Linked DNA regions of Homo sapiens: regions 2, 3 and 4 are each reported to be linked to region 1. Evidence: microRNA targets listed by miRTarBase, many of them from high-throughput screens and not tested one by one. Region 1 holds a microRNA gene; each other region holds the end of a gene's coding sequence.

Region 1 (5,075 bases):
ACTATTCTGTATACACTGTTCTGTACCTTGCTTTTTTCAAGATAGTATATCTTGGAGCTCACTCCATGTCAGAACACGGAGAAACTCCTTGTTCCAGTTCATGGCTGCAAAGCACTCCATTATGCAGGGGAGAGGGCTGATTCCAGCCTTCTACTCTTGGACCCTAGGCCTGTTTCCCACCCCTTCTATTTCTGAATGGTGCCACAATGAGTGGCTTGCGTATTAGTCATTTCATACTTCAAATCCTTTGTATGATGAGAAGGCTATATGGCCTGGGGTTTCCAAGGGTCCTCCCAGGGTGGCTCTTCAGGACCAGGAAGCTGCTGACTGCCCAGTGCCCCAGCTCTTAAGGAAGAGGAGGTCCCTGCTGAAGGCCCCTCCTGTCTTTTGCAGGTGATGTTCACGGAGGAGGATGTGAAGTTTTACCTGGCTGAGCTGGCTCTGGGCCTGGATCACCTGCACAGCCTGGGTATCATTTACAGAGACCTCAAGCCTGAGAAGTGAGTGAAGCCTCCAGCCCCACCCCAGCCTCCCCAGGGGAGGCCTCTTCTAGGACAGGGCCATCCTGAGGTGGGTGGGCATGGCTTTCTCCAGAAACGTCTCCCTCTCTTGGGCAATCTGAGGGATGGGTGAGTGGGGTGGGTGGTAGTGCCAGCTGCCCAGTCACTAATGCTACCATTACCAAGGGCCAGGTACTTTGCATGCAGGTAATGTTGCCCGTCTTTTTTTGCTAATCTAGTGTGACATTTGAGATGCCACCTTTAGAGGTCTTTCCTTGATAAAGCCCTATAGAATTTTCCCTAATATCTAACTACCCTCAAATGATAACTAAGGAGCCAGGGGCAGGTGGTGAGTTGGAATAAGATCTGGCTTTAGTGTTAGGCAGCCCTGTATTCAAATCCTGTCTCCACCTACTAGCTAGACTTACTAGCTCAATGACTGTAGAGCTACTTAACTGCCCTGAGCCTTAGTTTTCCCATTAGCAAAACGGGGCCCTAATAGTACTTGCCTCACACAGTTGCTTCAAGGATTAGCAAAAAAGATAGGCAACACCCCTGCGTGGTACTGCTACCACCCTGCAACACCCGCCCAGTCATCAGAGAGAATTGGGTGGAGCACCTCCTCTGGGCTGAACCCAACTCCCACAGCCCTGTGGTAACACCATCACCCACACGGCCACAGCTGAGGGGCCCTGACCACTATTTCTCTATTACAGCATCCTTCTGGATGAGGAGGGCCACATCAAACTCACTGGTGAGTGGAGGGCGCCTGCCCCCTCGGGACCCAGGGGAGGACAGGACAAGGTCATGATAGGTCTCGGCTGAGTGCTGGGGGCTCATTCTTCCCGAGAAGCCGTGCCAGTTACTTGGAAGTGGTCAAAAACTCAGGCCTCAGACTTGGAACACCCTCAGCTGGAATCCCAGCCCCTCATTGTGTAACGTTGAGCAAGTCACCTGACCTCTCTGGGCCTTAGCTTCCTCCTGAGTGTCATGGGGGTGATGCCTTCTGGCCTCTGGGCACGGGGGTTGGGTGTGCAAAGGGTGGCAGCAAGGAAGGCAGGGGTCCTAAGGTGTGTCCTCCTGCCCTCCTTGCTGTAGACTTTGGCCTGAGCAAAGAGGCCATTGACCACGAGAAGAAGGCCTATTCTTTCTGCGGGACAGTGGAGTACATGGCCCCTGAGGTCGTCAACCGCCAGGGCCACTCCCATAGTGCGGACTGGTGGTCCTATGGGGTGTTGATGGTGAGTGCCCAGACAGGGGTAAAGGATCCAGCCCAAGCCTCTGGCCTCAGTCTCCCTATCTGTACAGTGAGGGGGTTGATCATTTCTAGGGCTCTCCCCGTCTCCTCTCACAGCCAAGCTGGCCTCACCCTATATGCACCTGCAGTTTTCTTCCTTGGAAGGATCCCAGGCTTGACCCCACCTGGGACGCGCCTAACCCAGTGCTGGCCTTCTCCCCAGCCTCGCGCCCCCACCGCTGCTCCTGGTGGTCTGGTTGGCAGAGGCAAGAGGGACGGGCATAATTCTTGCTCCAGGCTGACTTGGATGTATCAGCAAGAATCCTGGGACTGGGGCAGAGGGGTCTGACTGGGAGGAGGCGGGAGGTGTGTCGGAGACAGGGATCAGAGCCTGAATAGATCCTTGTCCTCTGCAGTTTGAGATGCTGACGGGCTCCCTGCCCTTCCAGGGGAAGGACCGGAAGGAGACCATGACACTGATTCTGAAGTAAGCCCCAGCCCTGCCCTGATAACAATGGACTCCTCCAAGCCCCAGCCCCAGTTTGGGGGTCAGAATATTATTACCCTGTCCCTGCCTCAGCTACCCTCTCTAATGAGACTCTCCTCTGGGTTAAACATTATACCTTCCAGAGCCCCTCTTTCATCCCTGGGGGCCTGTGGGTAGGATCCCTGAAGCCTTTGGGAAGTGAATTAGTGGATGGCTTGTCTAGACTGAGCTGGGAACTAGATCTGGACAGGGGCCGGGGGAGATGGGGCCTCTGGGGCAGGGCTCAGCCTTGATGAGTCCCGGGGGCTGTTTCAGGGCGAAGCTAGGCATGCCCCAGTTTCTGAGCACTGAAGCCCAGAGCCTCTTGCGGGCCCTGTTCAAGCGGAATCCTGCCAACCGGCTCGGTAAGCAGCCCCAGCTCAGGGGAGGGGATGTGGCGATGGGGAGCCGGGTACAGCTGCAGCCTAGGCCACAGGGCCACATCTGGGCTGAAAGGGGCCGTTGTCCTTTGTGTGGGCAGACAATGCCGCGGGCCACCCTGCTTTCTGGCTCCATGTGTGGTGTTGTGGAGGGGGGAGTTGACCTGTGTGTAGGGGGAAGGCAGGAACTGAGTCATCCCTACTCCCTCTGGGGACAAGGACAGAGGCCCCCACACAGCTTCTCCGCCAAGGCTGCTGGCACAAGAGAAATAGCATGAGCTCAGGAGTCAGAAGGCATAGGTCCCAATCCCGGCTCTGTGTCAGGTCCCCACTGCCTGGCACAAAACAGTCCCTCTATAAATATTTGTTAAACGAATGAGGCCACTTATGAACTAAGTGACCCCAGGCAGGTGACTTCACCTCTCTGCACCGCAGGTTCCTCGTCTCAATGGGAGATGATGATCCCAAGCTTGCTTCAGGGCTCTGTTGATGAAATGAGGTTGTGTGAACATGCCGGCATGTAGTAGGTGTCCAGTGTGTGCTGGCTTCCCTGGCTCCTGGGTTCATCTGGTCCATGACCAGCTGTGTAAGGTCCAGTCAAGGCCCCTGGGGTCGAATGGAGTAACAGCCTGTCCTATGGTTGAAAAGGTCAATGGGATAAGAGGAACAGAGATGAGGCTTGCCTTGGAATGAGGTGGGGCTCTCTGTAGGTCTCAGAACAAGCTCAGCTTCTGTTCTAACTGTGTGGCCTTGGAGAAGTTGCCTAAAGTCTCTGGGCCTTCCTCCTCCCACTGGTACATTGGAATTTCTTCATCAGAAGCTCCAGAAAGTGGAAAATGCTGAGTAGGTGACAGGCCTTAGGGTGATGGCTGGGTAGATTTGAGGCTGAGTGAGCCCATTTTCCCCTCTGCTCCAGCAGCTGGTCCCAGAGCCCTGTGAGGCTGCTTGGTGGGCAGGGTAATATCTGGGACTTGTGCCAGCCAGGGACAGACCCTTCATTTGGGCTCTTTCAGGCTCCGGCCCTGATGGGGCAGAGGAAATCAAGCGGCATGTCTTCTACTCCACCATTGACTGGAATGTGAGTGTGTCCACCCACACCAGGGCTCTGGCCAGGGCTCAGCCATCTTGGCCACAGGAAGGGTGGTGGGAGGGGAGCCTCTGCCAGCGAGGGCCCCAGACGCAGGAGCAGAGGGTCACAGCCTGCCCTTGAAGACAAGGGCTGGCCTCCTGAGGGCAAGCAATTCCGAGAGCTGGGCAATATGGCCTATGTTCCAAGCCCAGCACCTCCTCCTGCATGGGGCTCCTGGTGGGCTGTTGAGGATGCCATGGTGACCAGAGTGCCCACCCCACTGTGCAGAAGCTATACCGTCGTGAGATCAAGCCACCCTTCAAGCCAGCAGTGGCTCAGCCTGATGACACCTTCTACTTTGACACCGAGTTCACGTCCCGCACACCCAAGGGTGCGTCCCTTATCTGTTTTGTCTGTCTTGGGCTGGTACAGGAGGGAAGCCGGGAGTCGGTGGCAGCTTGGGGGGCAGAGATAGTCAGGGACACTGACAGGCCGAGGTATGCGGGTGGGCAGGCGGGTGAGTTTCTGGCTCCGTGGGACTGACTTTGTCCCTGTCTCACTCCGCCCGACTCTCTCACTATGGGGCTCTGTGGGTCTCTTTGTGTCTGGTGAGAGAGTGGGAGTGGGGATGTGTGGGTGGTGAAGGCCACAGTAGAAAAGCCAGGACCCCTGCCCGGGGCACCTTCCAGCCCACTGGGAAGACCAAACACATCAGGCTTACCATCACGTCAGGGAGAAAGAATCTGACCCAGCCACACTGTGTGGTGGCTGAGCAGAGGTGACAGTGCCCATAGGTCAGGGACAGGCATGGGAATCAGCTTTGGCTGCCCTGACTGCCCGGCCTCCGTGTACTTATCTGGAACAAGGGCACAGCCACAAACCCACTCATTCCCTGGGGTTGCTACAAGAAGCCAGTGAGGGAGCTTCTGGGAAGGAACCTGGTGAATCCTAACTTTTTGGCCAGATATTGACAGTGGGTGTGGGGTGGAATGTTCTGGGAAACCTCCTATAAGGGCATGTTTTAGGAGAGGGTGTGCTTTTCTTCTCTCCTCTCCTCCCCTCCCCTCTCCTCCCCTCCCCTCCCCTCCCCTCCCCTCCCCTTCCCTCTCCTTCCCTTCCCTCTCCTCTCCTCTTTTCAAGATGGAGTCTCGCTCTGTTGCCCAGGCTGGAATGCAATGGCGTGATCTCAGCTTACTGCAACCTCCACCTCCTGGGTTCAAGAGATTCTCCTGCCTCAGCCTCCCGAGTAGCTGGGATTACAGGCATGTGTCAGCACGCCTGGCTAATTTTTGTATTTTTAGTAGAGACGGGGTTTCACCATGTTGGCCAGGCTGGTCTCGAACTCCTGACCTCAGGTGATCCA
Region 2 (5,075 bases), not on the chromosome of region 1:
GCATTACTATGAAGGAATACCTGAGACTAGGTTATTTATAAAGAAAAGAGGTTTATTTTTGCTCACAGTTCTGCGGGCTGTACAGGAAGCACAGTGCCAGCATCTACTTTAGGCAAGGACCTCAGGAAGCTTCCACTTATAGTGGAAGGAGAAGGAGGAGCAGGCACGTCACATGGCAAGAAAGGGAGCAAGAGAGAGAATGTGGAGGTCCCAGACTCTTTTAGTTAATCAGATCTCAAGCAAACTAACTGAGTGAGAACTCACGTTACCAAGAGGGTGGCAGGCACTAAGACATTCATGAGGGATCTACCCGCTGTGATCCAATTATCCCCACTCGGCCCCACCTCCAACACTGGGGACTACATTTCAAAATGAGAGTCAGGGGGACAAAAAACCCAAATCATTATCAGTGATCATTGTTCATTTATTTGTTTCAAACTCTCAACCAAATTTAAGTAAATGGGTCAGTATTTTATCTTTTCATACATGTACAAGACAGACCTTATTTGGTAACAGCAACAATCCTCACACATCTCTCTTCCTTCCTTCCAGGATTTTAATGCCTTTTGTAAAGACCTGCCTAATGGTTCTGCCTTCAGTGCAGACAATATGGAAGAGTGTGACAGATGTTATCATTGCTCCATTGTGTACGAGCGTAGGACGATGCTTCTCTTCTGTCAGCCTGCAACTGAGCCAGGATTGAATACTTGGACCCCAGGTCTGGAGATTGGGATACTGTAATACTTCTTTGTTATTATAACATAAAAGCACCACTGTTCTGTTCATTTCCTAGCTGTTCTAATTAAGAAAACTATTAAGATGAGCAACCACATTTAGAAATGTTTATTGACAGGTCTTTTCAAATAATGCTTTTCTAATTAATAGCCAAAGATTTCATATCTAACTTTGTAACCAGAATTATACAGTAAGTTGACACCACTTAGATTTAAAGGCAGACAGTTTTGCTTTAGTACAATAGTATACATTTTATAATGATGAACTTATAATGATTAAGGGACATTTCTATAAAAATACTACAATAGTTTTATGCACAACTTCCCATTAAAAATGAGATTTCTTATTTGTTTGTCTGTTTTTACTCTGGGAGTAATACTTTTTAAATTACCTTTACATATATAGTCACTGGCATACTGAGAATATACAATGATCCTGGAAATTGCAGTAACAAAAGCACACAACGATTATAGTAACTATAAGATACAATAAAACAAATAAATATGAAAGTAGATTCATGAAAATGTATTCCTTTAAAATATTGTTTTCCTACAGGCCTATTTAACAAGATGTTTCATTTTACTGTATATTTTGTAGTTAATATAAATGTTGCTCTAATCAGATTGCTTAAAAGCATTTTTATTATATTTATGTTGTTGAACTAATATATGAAATAAGTAAATGTAGCTCCCACAAGGTAAACTTCATTGGTAAGATTGCACTGTTCTGATTATGTAAGCATTTGTACATCTTCTTTGGAAATAAAAGATAAAAGAGCGATACACAAAGCTTTCTTTTCTAACTTTTCCAAGCAAAATCTAAAATGTTTTATGACATTTTTCTGGCTGTGATCTTAAAATAATTCATATCTAAATAGTATTTTGTCTAGGAGATGCTTTCTCTCTAGTAGTTAGAAATTAAATCTGTGTCAGCATTCCTATTAATGTCTCACTTTACTTTCAAGTAATATTGGTGCTATTTAACATTTTACAGTAAATGTTACTTCTGATACTTTAGTACAATTTCAACTACAGTGATTCATGTAGAGAGACAGGGGAGTTGTCAACTTGGGCTACTGAACTACATGCATAAACTAAAAACTAACAGCTACAAACTTTTAAGATTTCTCTAATATTGGTATGTAACACAGGATAAAGTTATTCTTGTCATTTTGAACTGTAGAGTCCTATTTCAGTGTGATGAATCACTGTTGCTTTGAAAAATCTCATTATTTCTGGGCCGGGCATGGTGGCTCACCCCTGTAATCCCAGCACTTTGGGAGGCCAAGGCGGGTGGATCATGAGGTCAGGAGATCAAGACCATCCTGGCCAACATGGTGATACCCCGTCTCTACTAAAAATACAAAAAAATTAGTTGGGCATGGTGGCATGCACCTGTAGTCCCAGCTACCTGGGAGGCTGAGGCAGGAGAATTGCTTGAACCTGGGAGGCAGAGGTTGCAGTGAGCCAAAATCATGCCACTGCACTCCCGCCTGGCAACAGAGCAAGAGTCTGTCTCAAAAAAAAAAAGAAAAAAAGAAAAAAAGAAAAAAGAAAAATCTCATTATTTCAAAATGATAGACATATACCAAAAACAAGTCTATAATGTGAGTAGTTACTAAAATTTACACATCTTAAAAGTGTGTAAATGCTTAAATTTCAGAATTACCATCAGAACCTCAATTGACATTCCTTTGAATACGCTAATAAGTGACAAATAAGATTAATAAGATTTTTCAAAATCGCCAGGACTGGTGAATATAAATGATGATTGAACTGGAATAATATTGGGGACCAAATCAAATGAATGATTAAATTATGAAGCTCATATCCTTTTGAAGGTAGTTGCAAAGAGACATTTCAAAACTGCCCTAGGCCATTGCAGCATCCTTAGATGGGACGCATAATCATTACCTTAAAGCATCACCACTCATTTTGACCATATAGATTTTATTATGTTAGTTTAAAAGGTCAATCAGCCTCATGACTTTATAGTTATGTCTTGTATTTAAAAACATTTTTTATACATTTGGTTATGTTGATAAACCAAAAACATTTGATTAATAAAATATCTATTTGAATAAATTATGAGCTATCCTTTCAAACAGCTATTGGCAAGTTTTAAACCCAAAATATATACACATAGTTCTGTAATAAAACTGTTTGACTTCTCAAGTAACATGACTTCCTTATTTCTGAACAGTACTGGTTACTTTCAAAATGAATTTTTATTGAGATTTTCCATTAACTATTTTTTTCAAAGACTCAAATTTTGTACCAAGTAAATCCAGGCTTTATGTACAAACATGTTGTTTGTTTTATTTGGGGCTGGGGGAGGTATATGATGAGCAGACTTCTCGGAATTCATAATAAATTTTCTAAAAGCCTACAAATGTGTGTATTGCTTTTATTACAGTAAATATGGAATCTTTCATACTTATTTTTACCTTATTAAAAACTCAAAATAGATAATAAATACATTAGTTATTGCTTATTTGGGAATGTATTTTTAAAAATTATTACATTAGTAGTTGAATTCTTTGTTTTCCAGCACTTAAAGAGGTTCCATATAAATGTTCTATCATTTGATGAATAGTATAAAATAGCCTGTTCACACACCCACCATACTTCTTCTTTTTTATAGTCTCTTCTTGCTAATCCTAAATAAACTGAAATTTGTTTCCAATTTTTAAAATAAGAAAGTAACAATATAAATCACAGGCACTTGGATACCTGTACCATGAAGCTAGACTAGAGTCCAAAATTATTTTTGGAAAGTGAGTATGTGAAGAGTAGTTGCTGATGTTGGCATACATTTTCTTGTCAGTTCATCTGGAAAAACGACCAACCTATAATAATAAAGCAGGTGCTTGGCTTTTTAAAATGTTCTTTATAGTTTTCAGGAACTTTTAAAAATTCATCTTTTTGATAGTCATCCACATCCCATTAATTTATTTTGATGCCTCTCTTGGAAAGTTGTTGGAGTGTAGTGAAAAAAGCCCTGCCCTAGAAGTCAGGCAACTGGATTCCAGTCTCAGCATTGCCGTTATTGAGGTGTATCCCTTCATGCAAAGGGTTTAATCTTGGGTTCTCAGTTTTCTTATCGTTAATGAAAGAATTGAACTAAATGGTCTCTCAGGAGCTTCCTATCTCATTGTTTTCTGTGACTTCAGCAGGATGAAAACTTGGCTATGTATATGAAAACCAACCTAGCTGTCCAGTCCAAAAATATTTTTTTAAATCAGTGAATTTTCAATCAATTACAGGATAGGTGTGCTATAAATACAATAATTAATGCATGTACTTTTCACCCTTCTATTGATTGTGAGACTGTATTTGGCCTCAATTCATTAAAACAGAGATCCTAAGATTTTTATCAATGCTAAGTCTTTATTATTATGAATTTCTGAAAAAAATTATATCTTAATTAGAATTTGCGATTGAACCTTTAACAACATGGGGTTGAACTGCTCAGTCCACTTATACTCAGATTTTTTTTCAGTAAATACAGTTAGCCTTCCGTATCCACAGGTTCCTCATCCACCATCAAACTGGATCCAAAATAGAGTATTGCAAGATGCAAAACCCTCAGACAAGGAGGGCTGACTTTTCACCTCCTTGGGTTCTGCAGGGATGACGGGATTTAAGTATGCAAGGATTTTTATATCTGCAGGGGAATTCTAGAACCAATCCCTCAAGGGTACCGAGGAATGACTCTATTTCATTTTAAGATTTTCTGTCAAAATCACTGCTATGCCCCATAATCACTGCCATCTTTCTCTTTTGCCTGGCTATTTGCCACAGCCTCCTAACTGACCTCACTTCCTGCCTTCAATATGATCACCAATCCATTTTTCTCTTAAAAAAAACGTGATTATACCAAGACTACCCTGTCATTTCCTTGCTTAAAACTATCAATTGTATGTGATTGCCCTGAGAATAATATTCCAAGTTCTTGAGCAGCATATGCAAGGCCTTCGCCATCAACCCGTTGTCATCGTTAGCAACTCTTCTGTAGCTTTACTGAACAACCCGTGCTACTCCTGTGTACCCATGCCAGCATTGTTTTTCTTCTCATGCCTGCCTCACTCTTATCTGTTTCCAAAACTCTTCCACATTAAGTGCCTCTTCTGTGTCTACATCTAAAATGTTGTACAAATTCCTATTATCACCTGTCACGTTGTAAAAGTAACCCTGTTAACTAATACCATTAGACTGCTAGTTAGGTATTTGAGAACCAAAAACATCACTTCACGTTTGCTGGGATTCTGAAATGGTGCCCAGTGCTTAATGAGTTCCATCAATATTTTCTGTATGAATGATTATGTAAATAAATAACTG
Region 3 (5,075 bases), not on the chromosome of region 1:
AGAAATCAACACTTGTCTGTTTACATTAACCGAGCAGAGCTTAGTCACCCATCACTGGATTCGACCTCGAGCAGACAGCTCTACCTGACTCAGGGTCGGAAGAGTGATACAAGGTGTGCAACATATGAAGCTCCTAATGCCCATCACTAACAAGTGACACGGAGGCAGGGGAAACAGAGAGTGCCGCTACCGATTCAGGTCACGCAAAGGAGGGAGGCTCTTTCAAGGTCTTGCTCCAACTTCACGTTTTCACATTATTTCAGAGTAAGAAAAGAAGTGGTGCAGACAACTCAAGAAATAAAATGGGCAAAAATTATACACATCTCTATTTACTAGGAGAAGTAAAAAAATAAAACAACCCCTGTGTTGAAACCAGGCAGTATTGGAATCAGGAGGTGAAGATCTGTTTCATAATCTAGTGATTTCAAGAGAGTGTGTCAGATCAACGGAGATGAATAATTGTGCACAAATACACGAGCAACAGCATTGGCTTGACTCTAAAGGAGGACCAGAATGTGTCTCTACTTCCACTGCTAACGCCCCTCTGCAGAAAATGTTCAGTGTGCGTGGCATCGTGCTAGTCCCACCTGGATATACTAATTTATGGACGGCCTTTTCTAGCCAATGGGTAGAGAACAAACTCCCAGGTTTGGAAGCCAAGCCTCTCTGAGGAGGCACAGAAAAGAACTATCCGATGTCCACGTTCAGTGTGTACACACAACACACAGAGACAAAAACAGAGGCCAGGCTCCGTCAGAGGACACACTCTAGCTGAGCAAAGGCTGCATTCGGCAACTAGGGTGGTGTAAACACCTCGGATCTCACTGCAGCCGGAAGGAAGTCACGGCATAGTCCCTTTTCAGGAGTCTGAGGGATACCACTTGTGTTGCAAACCACAGATCCCAAGTATTAGACGTATTCCCTTCTTGGTGGAGGCCTACTCTAGAAGAATCAAAAACCGATGACCCTCTCAGCGAATCCGATGTTAAAGCTCCTAACTAGGTGACCCTTTAGCACTACAGACGTAAAAATGACTCTAATGCACTCCCTAGAAAAGGCAGTGAAGCAAAGGGGGCTGCTGAGAGTTTACATGGTTTTCATATAAAGAGGCTTTTAACTTTGGAAAAAGCGGGCCTGGAAAGAACACTACCCCCATTCCAGTTGACGGCTTTTTAAGTACTTTGTGGCCTTCCTGCCGCGGTGCAAAATGAGGTCTATTTTAGGAACTGGCTTCTTTACTGCGGGGTTAGATGCCAACATTTCACCAGGGTTGGACGATCTCACACATGAGTTTCTGGCACTTTTAGGAGGGATTTCCTCAAGTGATACACTAGGGAATGAGCCTTTCAGCAAAAAGCGGTTCCCCGGAGTCAGTTGCCAGCTCCAGGAGATTAATTGGCCATTTTTTCATATGTTTTATGTGCAAGATATTTAATATGGGATGAAAAATGGAACACGAGGAAAAGCAGGTATTAGTTTGGTCTGAAAGAGGTGGTAATCCACAGATTTGCTTTTGTTTCGACAGTTTCTAAGCAGTGGAACAATTACCTAACAGTGCACCAAGTAATTTGTTAAAGTTGAAAACAGTAAGGGCGTTCATGTGCGCCAAGGTATTCTGGGCTGAAAACAGCAATTTTGAATTTTCATGGCAGACCCAACTCCTAAGCTGGCTCCACTCTGTCCTATCAGATTTTGGTGGTGGTGGCAGAGAATGTCATAGGCCTGTGGCTGGCACCGACCAAGCTGTCAGGGTGGTACGAAAAGGAGAGGAAACAGGAGTGCTGGACATGGACCCAGCTCTGGGTAGCTGATGGTGATAACACATCGATTTTTTGTTTCCCTTTTGAAAATAAGCAGAAAATGATGTGGGTGGAAAGTCCTCCTTAGGAGTTCACAGGGACTGCTCGTATTTAGCAGGGCCCTCTAAATGGGGACTGGTGAAAACAAAGATGTTTTGAACGGGGATCCAGAATTTCGCCCTTGACTCTCGGCAGGTATGACCCTGGGTGCCTGTGAGCTAGGAGAGGAAATTCTGTATGCAGGGCAAACATGTTACAAGGGGAGGAGATGGCACTGCACTTCAGGTCTCCAAATGCAGTGTGCTAGGAATGGCCTCGCTGACAGTTGGAATCACGGATACATTAATTACAGCGAAGGCAAAAGTAAGCTACAGTGACAGGGAGCTGGGGGCGGAGGGAGAAGGCACTTTGCCATGGGAGCACATCTGTTTTATAATAAGCAGGTCTATAATTCTCTTGTGAAAGATCATGTTCTGCTATCTTCTCTGAGGCTGGAAAATATAAATACTGTATTTTACCAAGAGGAGGAGGAAAGGAGATGATCAAATTTGTTTGCCTGTTGCCAAGTGTTTGAGATTTTCCACCCTTTTTCTTTTGTGTGCAACATTCTCTTTAACTAGAGTGGGGGAAAAGTCAACCTGCTTTTCTAAGGGTAAAAGGCACCGTCAGGCGTCTCATGAATAGGGCCCTGGCCTTTTAACAAGTTTTCAAGCCTTGGTTGCGGCTACTGTATAGTCAGAAAATAAATGCATGTATGGTGTTGAGCTATTAAGGTGAAATGTGTGGCCTGGGGCCAAAGGAACTGGTGTGGGTTGAGAGGTAAAATGCTTACATCTAACTGCACAAAAGTCAGTCTGAAATGTCACATCTCTAGATGGATGGAAGTATCATGAGTTGGGGTCTTGGGGAAGCGGCGTGTGGGGGAAAGGAGCAATGGGGTTGAATGTACCAAGTATGTTGTGAGCCACTGATCCTAATAGCAGCAAAACTACTAAACCATGAAGACATAGAAGGCATCTGCTCAGCGCGAAAGCTACAGAATCTTCTCATAAAGTCTACTGAGAACTGTTCCATTATAAACATATTTTTCTTGCTCTAGGGAGAGTTAAGGGGAAGGAATGGGAGCTGTCAGGGTCCCAGGGCTGTCCTACCTGCCGTTTTGGTCACAGTGACTGCCACGTGCTCTTCCAAGGGCACTGCAGCTGGAGAACACTACCTGCCAAATAGCAAAGCAGATCTCTTTCTTACTCCTATTATTTATTTTAGCACTCTTTGTTTTACTTCAAGGTGGCAATTATATATGTGTGTGTATATATATATATTTATTTAAATAATATTAGATCTAATTCATTAATTATACTTGTAAGTTTGTATTTTCTTAATAGTCCAAAGTTGGTATTTTGAAGTTCCACATTACTCTGATTTTTTAAACAAAAAAATGAGAAAGCAAGAATGGTCACATTGACAAAGGTCGAAATGAAAGTGCAGGAAGAACAACGAGAAATAAAGCACTTAAAATGAATAGGTAGGAACTGCCTCCACAGGATTCTGAGAAAAGAAACTAAAACGACCCTCTTTGGGAATATACTTACTAGATAGCCTTATCTACCAGTCTACACGACGATGTCTTTAACAACCACCCCAGGACATTTCCTCCGGCCAGCATCATGAAAAAAATCATAAATATCAACCATGGGCACCCGTTGAAAACTGTTAAGAAAGCCATGTGTACAGCCTGGAAAACACGGTGGAGCGTCACATCATTAGGTGGGTGATGGGATTAGTACCGAAAAACAGACCGACAACACGCAGTTATTGGTCGCAGAGGTTTCTTCTCTTCTCAGGAAAAAAACTTCTGAGATTAACTTCAAAACCAGAACCAGCCCTCCTCATAAATGAGGGGTGTATGCTTTCTGTCAGAGGGGGCTTGGCTCCTGTTTCCAGCCATCGGCTCTGCTTACGTGATTCCCCGCCTCCACAGGAGGAACTGAGGCGGGAGCGCCACGGACACCAGGTCCTGGAAGGACCCAGCAGTCTCTTGTGTTTTGAAGGTTTTCTTATGAAACAGATGATGATGGGTGCCTGCCTCAGTTACCTCAGCCTCTGTGAAGGCTAAAAATAAATAACACAAAAATAACCTAAAGCACTGTTTTGTGCAGGAAATGCTTCCTTTTGTGTCTTGGGTAATAAAATGTACCGAGAGACAGAGAGAAAAAAAAAGTCTGAACTATAAAGCATTGTGTATACCACGTTTTGTCTGGGAGCAAGCAGCTGAAATTCTTGGCTAAGTGTAATCCAGCTATTGGTAGTTTCTCGAGCCACAGAGGTTCTGTGGATCGTCTGGACAATGATGTACACAGAGCATACGTACAGGACGTATAGGTATTTGCGTATATATAAATAAATATATATATCTATATCTAGTTGAAGAGGATACATACTCTTCTTCCAAAGGGGTCTAACTGGCTAGTTAGGAGGCCGCTCTGGGGCTGATGGATTGTTGATTGGTGAATCCCTGGCCTTCGGGTCGGCTGGAGTCAGGTGTTCTGGTAGGACAGCTCGAACATGGTGCAAGCCTCCTCTAGACTCTCGTCCATGTTCAGTCTCTGCCAGAAAGACTTCTGCTTCTTCTGCAGCTCTCGGCGAACACACCTCGGGCAGGGGACAGACTTTTCTTTGCATTCAGAATGGAAAACGGCTCCACAGCTTTCACACCTGCAAAAGTCAACCATGGATATGATGAGCAAGACTGAAGCCAGCAAGACACAAATGGGAAGCCCTGTGGCCTCAGGTGCAGCTGGTGGCACAATCTACTGTTCTGGACAACCCTGCCAATGGGAAGGGAGATGACTCACTGAAATGAACTGTTTGTTTTTCCAAAATGCTCAAGGTTGAATTTCACTTGAAAAACATTTTTGCTTTTCTGATCTGAACTAGGGCTTATGAGTGGGGGGGAGTCCGCAGTCACCCAGCAATTCTGGTTATAGTGACAATGGACAGAACACCAGAAGCTCTCCATTGAGAAGGGAATTGGCAGTGACTCTAGAGTGAAATGACAGAAAATGAGAGGGGAGTGCCTCGTGAAAACGCTCGGCACACCAGTGACAGCCACAGCGTTACATCCATGGCGAGGCAGCTTTCTACATCAGTTAACACGAGCTAAGTGGTTCTCTGTTAACTAGCTGCCTTTATTTGACAGTTTGAAAAGATAAAATGACACATTTTCATTTTCTGAATGACATCCTGTGGTCTATGAAATCTTGTGAGTTTTTTAAA
Region 4 (5,075 bases), not on the chromosome of region 1:
ATCTATCACCTTATAAGCAGAACTCTAATAAATTTTCAGGTATTACTAGCATATTTTAAGTATTGTGAGACATCACAGTAGATGGTGTTATTATTAGATATTAGAGAGTCAAGAGGATGAAGAGTTATAAAAGAAACCTCAAGATGTGTTAATGAATTCCATTCAGTGTCAATTGTTTATTCATGTAGGATACTCTGCATTTAAACTGAATGAAATTCAAAATATAATCCTAATGGGGTTTTCATTGGAAAATAAATGAGTCAAAAATTCTCATGAAGAAACATCTTTATTTCCAAATAATAAACTATATATTAATAATATATACATACATCTTTATTTCCAAGTAATAAAAGCTATTGAAAAGTGTCAAGGATTGCTAGAATATGGAGAACAGAAATAGATGTGAGCATTTAATATACAACTGATAGTATTTTAATTCAGTAGGAGAAAGGTGAATAATAGTTACTTCTGGCATAACTGGTTTTATTCCTGGATAGAAACAAGTCTGACATCCTGCATTAGATCGTATAATCAATTCCTGATGTATTAAAATATTAAATCTCTGTGTATACACACTCACAGAATCACATATATGAAAAACTGCACTCCACTCCTTTATTCTCTTGCCCTCTGAAATCTTCCAGAAGCAAAACCTTCCTAGGAAACATAGAAAACACTGGAAATGACGCCGGGTGCGGTGGCTCATGCCTATAATGCCAGCACTTTGGGAGGCCGAGGAGGGTGGATCACCTGAGGTCAGGAGTTCGAGACCAGCCTGACCAACATGGAAAAATGCCGTCTCTACTAAAAATACAAAATTTTCCAGGCGTAGTGGCATATACCTGTAACCCCAGCTACTTGGGAGGCTGAGGCAGGAGAATCTCTTGAACCCGGGAGGCGGAGATTGCAGTAAGCCAAGATTGCGCCATTGCACTCCAGCCTGGGAAACAAGAGTGAAACTCTGTCTCAAAACAAAACAAAGCAAAAACACTGGAAATGACTTGGGAAGCTTATTTTATAGAAATAAAACAGACAAGAATACAAAGTGTTTGTTGCAGCATTACTTTTAGATGGCAAAAAAGCGCAAACAATCCATAATATCACAATTGGGAAAGTGGTTGAAAAGGCATTGGTAAATAACACTGTGGAACATACTGTAACCATCAGAAAGACTGTTAGATCATCATCTATTGAAGGAAAATCCAAAATGTACAGTTGAATGTAAAAAAGCAAATTTCAGGGAAATGTATAGTTATCCATTTTTCTGTAAAAACATAATAAAATAATTGTGTGTTAATGTTTTAGCATGAAGAAATATATGGGTAATATACACAACCTTTAAATATTATTCAGAAGAAAATTGACAGAGGGGAGGGAATGAGGAACGGAGAAGGGCAAAGATAATCATTTTTTCTTTCTTTTTTTTTTTTTTTTTTGAGACAGATTTTTTGAGACTCTGTCATGCAGGCTGGAGTGCAGTCAGGATCTCAGCTCACTGCAACCTCCGCCTCCCGGGTTCAAGCGATTCTCCTGCCTCAGCCTTCCGAGCAGCTGGGACTACAGGCACATGCCACCACGCCCAGCTAATTTTTGTATTTTTAGTAGAGATGGGGTTTCACTATATTGGCCAGGCTGCCCCCTGCCTTGGCCTCCCAAAGCACTGGGATTACAGGCGTAAGCCACTGTGCCCAGCCCCTTTTCTTTCTCTTTAATGGTATTGTTTCATTAATTTGGGTGCAAATGCACTATCTCTATAATTTTAGATGAAGAACTTTATAAAAGACATAAGCACACAAGAAAAGAAAGTAAACAAAATCTCATTTGGCAGTTTTCATTTTGATAACGCAAAACATTACAACAGTCCATTTTTAGTAATTCTCTCATTTGCAGGTATTTTTGCTCACTCTACTTTTCTCAAATTTATTATGAAATATTTTACTTCCTTATGCCAGTAAAGTAAAGTAACACAATGTTCAGAGAGACCCGTCTACACAGGATCTAAGAAAAAAGGAAGTGGGGCATAAAATAACAGTTCTACAGACATAAACTTCATCCTTCCACATATGCGATCTGTCCAGCGTGGGGAGCTGCTTGCTGAGCATGTTTTGAGCACAGGGAAGGCCCATTTCAAAACACTAACTTAACCCCAAACAAAGCTACACTGTGGACTTTTTTTTTTTTTTTTTAATAGTCTCATTCTGTCGCTCAGGCTGAAGTGCCATGGCGTGATCTTGGCTCACTGCAACCTCCACCTCCTGCATTCAAGTGATTCTCCTGCCTCAGCCTCCCCAGTAGCTGGGATTACAGGCATGTGCCACCATGCCTGGCTAAGTTTTGTATTTTTGAGTAAAAATGGGGTTTCAACATGTTGGCCAGGCTGGTCTCAAGCTCCTGGCCTCAAATGATCCTTCCATCTCAGCCTCCCAAAGTGCTGGGATTACAGGCGTGAGCCAAGATGTGTACTTCTATATAACTGAAATAGTTCCTTGAACATTTGATAAAGTTTTCCTTAGAAAGAAACTGGATTTGGTGCTTCATTAGTAATAGTTAACTGATCACATGCTAATTTTTCCCTGTTCTCTGTGTTTATGAGAGTCTTTGAAGAGTCCTAATTTTCTTGGAGTCAATATTGATGTATATTTTCCTTAAAAACCATTTTGTTTAAATTTTCAAACATATTAGAAAAAAGCATAATATTCAACAGAACCTTTTAAATCTGTAACTATGTTTCTATCTCTGTCCATTTTTTAAATATGATGCTGTTTCTCTTTTCATACTTTTTTTCCTCATTAGTGCACCAATATTTTGCTTATGTTCTCTTTTCTTTTTTACTGGGTATATAATGCGACAAAAAGAGTATTAGTCGGAATAAAGTCCTTCACACACATTATTCACAGTACTTTCCCCCCCAACACCTAGGATTATTTCATGTTCAATAGTAAGTACATGATGATGGGAAATTTTCTTAACTTGTTACCTTCAAAGGGTCTTTCTTCAGTCAAACACCCTGCCTAATGGTGACTAAGTTCTGCAGAAGTTAAAAAGCCTTTCTACAAATAATAATACTGATGATGATGAATATAATAACGATGACTAACATTCAGTGAGTATGTATTTATCATGTCAGGCACAATTCTAAGCACTTTATCGATCTTAATTCATTTAATCCTCACAAAGCATTATGAGGTAGGTATTATAATTATCCCCCATTTTATAATTTTTACTGAGACACGCATGTATATATGAACAGAAAAATGATCAGCAATAAATAATGAACTGATAAAGACTATCCTTTGGGATATGGTCAAAGGGTACATTTGCCTTTTTGTAATGTTTGCATCTTTTATAAGGAAAATATATTCACACATTACTTCTGCAATTAAAAGATATGATACAAAGATGTGCTTAGGGAGAATGTCCAGCAGGGACTTGTATTTTGGCATGTATTATGGCAAAATATCTAGAGGAGACTACGATATCCACCAATAGGATTTCATAAGTGATATTACAGTAACACAACAAAACACCATGAAGATAATGAAGAATCTCTATTGAGTAAAATGTCGTTCATGAACATTTTTACAATAAGAAAGCCTTAATGTTATAAAGAACAAAAAGAATAAGCCATCTTCAAAAATAAAGAGGTCACTTCTCCCAGGTACTAAAGGTATTTTTAAAATAGTATACAAATCAGGATGTAAACAGATGAAATTTATAGCCATATAAATTTAATATGGATTAAAATACTAAGAATGTAACAATTAGAGAAATTAGGGGAAAAAATGACAATCACAGGACTACATTTCTACAAAAATTCTCTGACGTTAAGAAGGTTAGAAAGGTGTTAAAAGTGCTGTCATTTTCAGTATGACAGACTGAATTATCTATCATATTGCTAGACTGAATTATCTGATGTCAAGAGAAGTAAGCGTTTAGTTAAGGGCTTCCAAAGTATATTCTATTCATAGAGTATTTCTCCAACATTATTTTTCCCAGGCTGAATAAGCTGTAGTCCACAAATAAAATGTTTCTACATTATTCTATCTAGAGGAATTATTAACAAGATAAATTCTGTTTTGAGCCATAATTAAAAGCCTCCCTACACATTTCATATATTCTGTTTCATCACCAGTACAAATTTTGATGCTGAATAAGTTGTGGGTCATAATTAAAGTTCTTTCCACATTCCCTATATTCATAGGGTTTCTCACTAGTATGAATTCTATGATGACTAATAAGCTGTGAACTCTGAGAATAAGCCTTCCCACATATCTTACATTCATAGGGTTTCTCCCCAGTATGAATTCTCTGATGTCTAGTAAGGTCTGAGCCAGAACGAAAAGCCTTTTCACATTCCTTACATTCGTAAGGTTTCTCACCTGTATGGATTCTTTGATGTTTAATAAGTTGTGAGCTCTGACTAAAGGCATTGCCACATTCCTTACATTCATAGGGTTTTTCCCCAGTATGAATTCTCTGATGTTGAGTAAAGTTTGAGCCACTACTAAAGGCCTTCCCGCATTCTTTGCATTCATAAGGCTTCTCACCTGTGTGAATTCTCTGATGTCGAGTGAAGTTTGAACCACTACTAAAGGCTTTCCCACATTCCTTACATTCATAGGGTTTCTCACCAGTGTGAATTCTGTGATGTCGAGTAAGGTCTGAGCCACAAATAAAGGTTTTTCCACATTCCTTACATTCAAAGGGTTTCTTGCCAGTATGAATTTTCTGATGATGAGTGAGTCTTGAGGGATGTCTAAAGGACTTTCCACATTCCTTACATTCATAAGGCTTCTCAATGGTATGAATTATCTCATGTGTAGCAAACTGTGAGCCATGTCTAAAGGTTTTCCTATATTCTTTAGATGCACAGAATTTCTTTTTACTGTTAATGATTTGCTGTAATGTGAAGGATGGATGGTGACTCAAAGTGGGCAGATCTTCATGAGTGAATACCAATTGATTGAAATGTCCCCCCTGAGAGCCGAGTTCTTTCTTAAACTGCCGATTACATTCCCAATCATCTCTGAAACTGGAGCACTGAAAATCACGTCTTGTGAGTTTTTCCATTATTT

What was found. Region 1 holds the annotated microRNA hsa-miR-1976 (CCUCCUGCCCUCCUUGCUGU, at 1,577-1,596, shown strand). A microRNA usually pairs through its seed, bases 2 to 8, with sites in the 3' UTR of a target mRNA and lowers its output. Matches are read on the target gene's strand: a 7mer-m8 pairs with bases 2 to 8, a 7mer-A1 pairs with bases 2 to 7 and ends in A, and an 8mer does both.
Region 2: the mRNA of CAV2 is a reported target of hsa-miR-1976. Seed matches in the 3' UTR shown: 7mer-A1 at 2,042-2,048 and 8mer at 2,159-2,166.
Region 3: miRTarBase lists PLEKHM3 as a target of hsa-miR-1976. The part of its 3' UTR that is shown has no 7-base or 8-base seed match.
Region 4: the mRNA of ZNF566 is a reported target of hsa-miR-1976. Seed matches in the 3' UTR shown: 8mer at 2,271-2,278, 7mer-m8 at 2,253-2,259 and 8mer at 1,527-1,534.

Annotation. Positions count from the first base shown.
Region 1 is chr1:26,552,998-26,558,072 of GRCh38, forward strand. MIR1976 (microRNA 1976) reads left to right here and starts at 1,545; the gene lies at 1,545-1,596. RPS6KA1 (ribosomal protein S6 kinase A1) reads left to right here. Exons shown (of 22, transcript NM_002953.4): 7 at 394-500; 8 at 1,217-1,254; 9 at 1,599-1,741; 10 at 2,154-2,224; 11 at 2,540-2,628; 12 at 3,657-3,721; 13 at 4,001-4,103.
Region 2 is chr7:116,505,419-116,510,493 of GRCh38, forward strand. It overlaps CAV2 (caveolin 2), which reads left to right. Exons shown (of 3, transcript NM_001233.5): 3 at 553-3,123. The coding sequence ends at 703. Among named protein-coding and RNA genes, the nearest start is that of CAV2, 8.2 kb to the left of the region's middle.
Region 3 is chr2:207,823,983-207,829,057 of GRCh38, forward strand. It overlaps PLEKHM3 (pleckstrin homology domain containing M3), which reads right to left. Exons shown (of 8, transcript NM_001080475.3): 8 at 1-4,514. The coding sequence ends at 4,337. Among named protein-coding and RNA genes, the nearest start is that of FZD5, 57 kb to the left of the region's middle.
Region 4 is chr19:36,444,852-36,449,926 of GRCh38, forward strand. ZNF566 (zinc finger protein 566) reads right to left here. Exons shown (of 5, transcript NM_001145344.1): 5 at 268-5,075. The coding sequence ends at 4,126. Among named protein-coding and RNA genes, the nearest start is that of ZFP82, 29 kb to the left of the region's middle. RefSeq lists an enhancer at 4,200-5,075.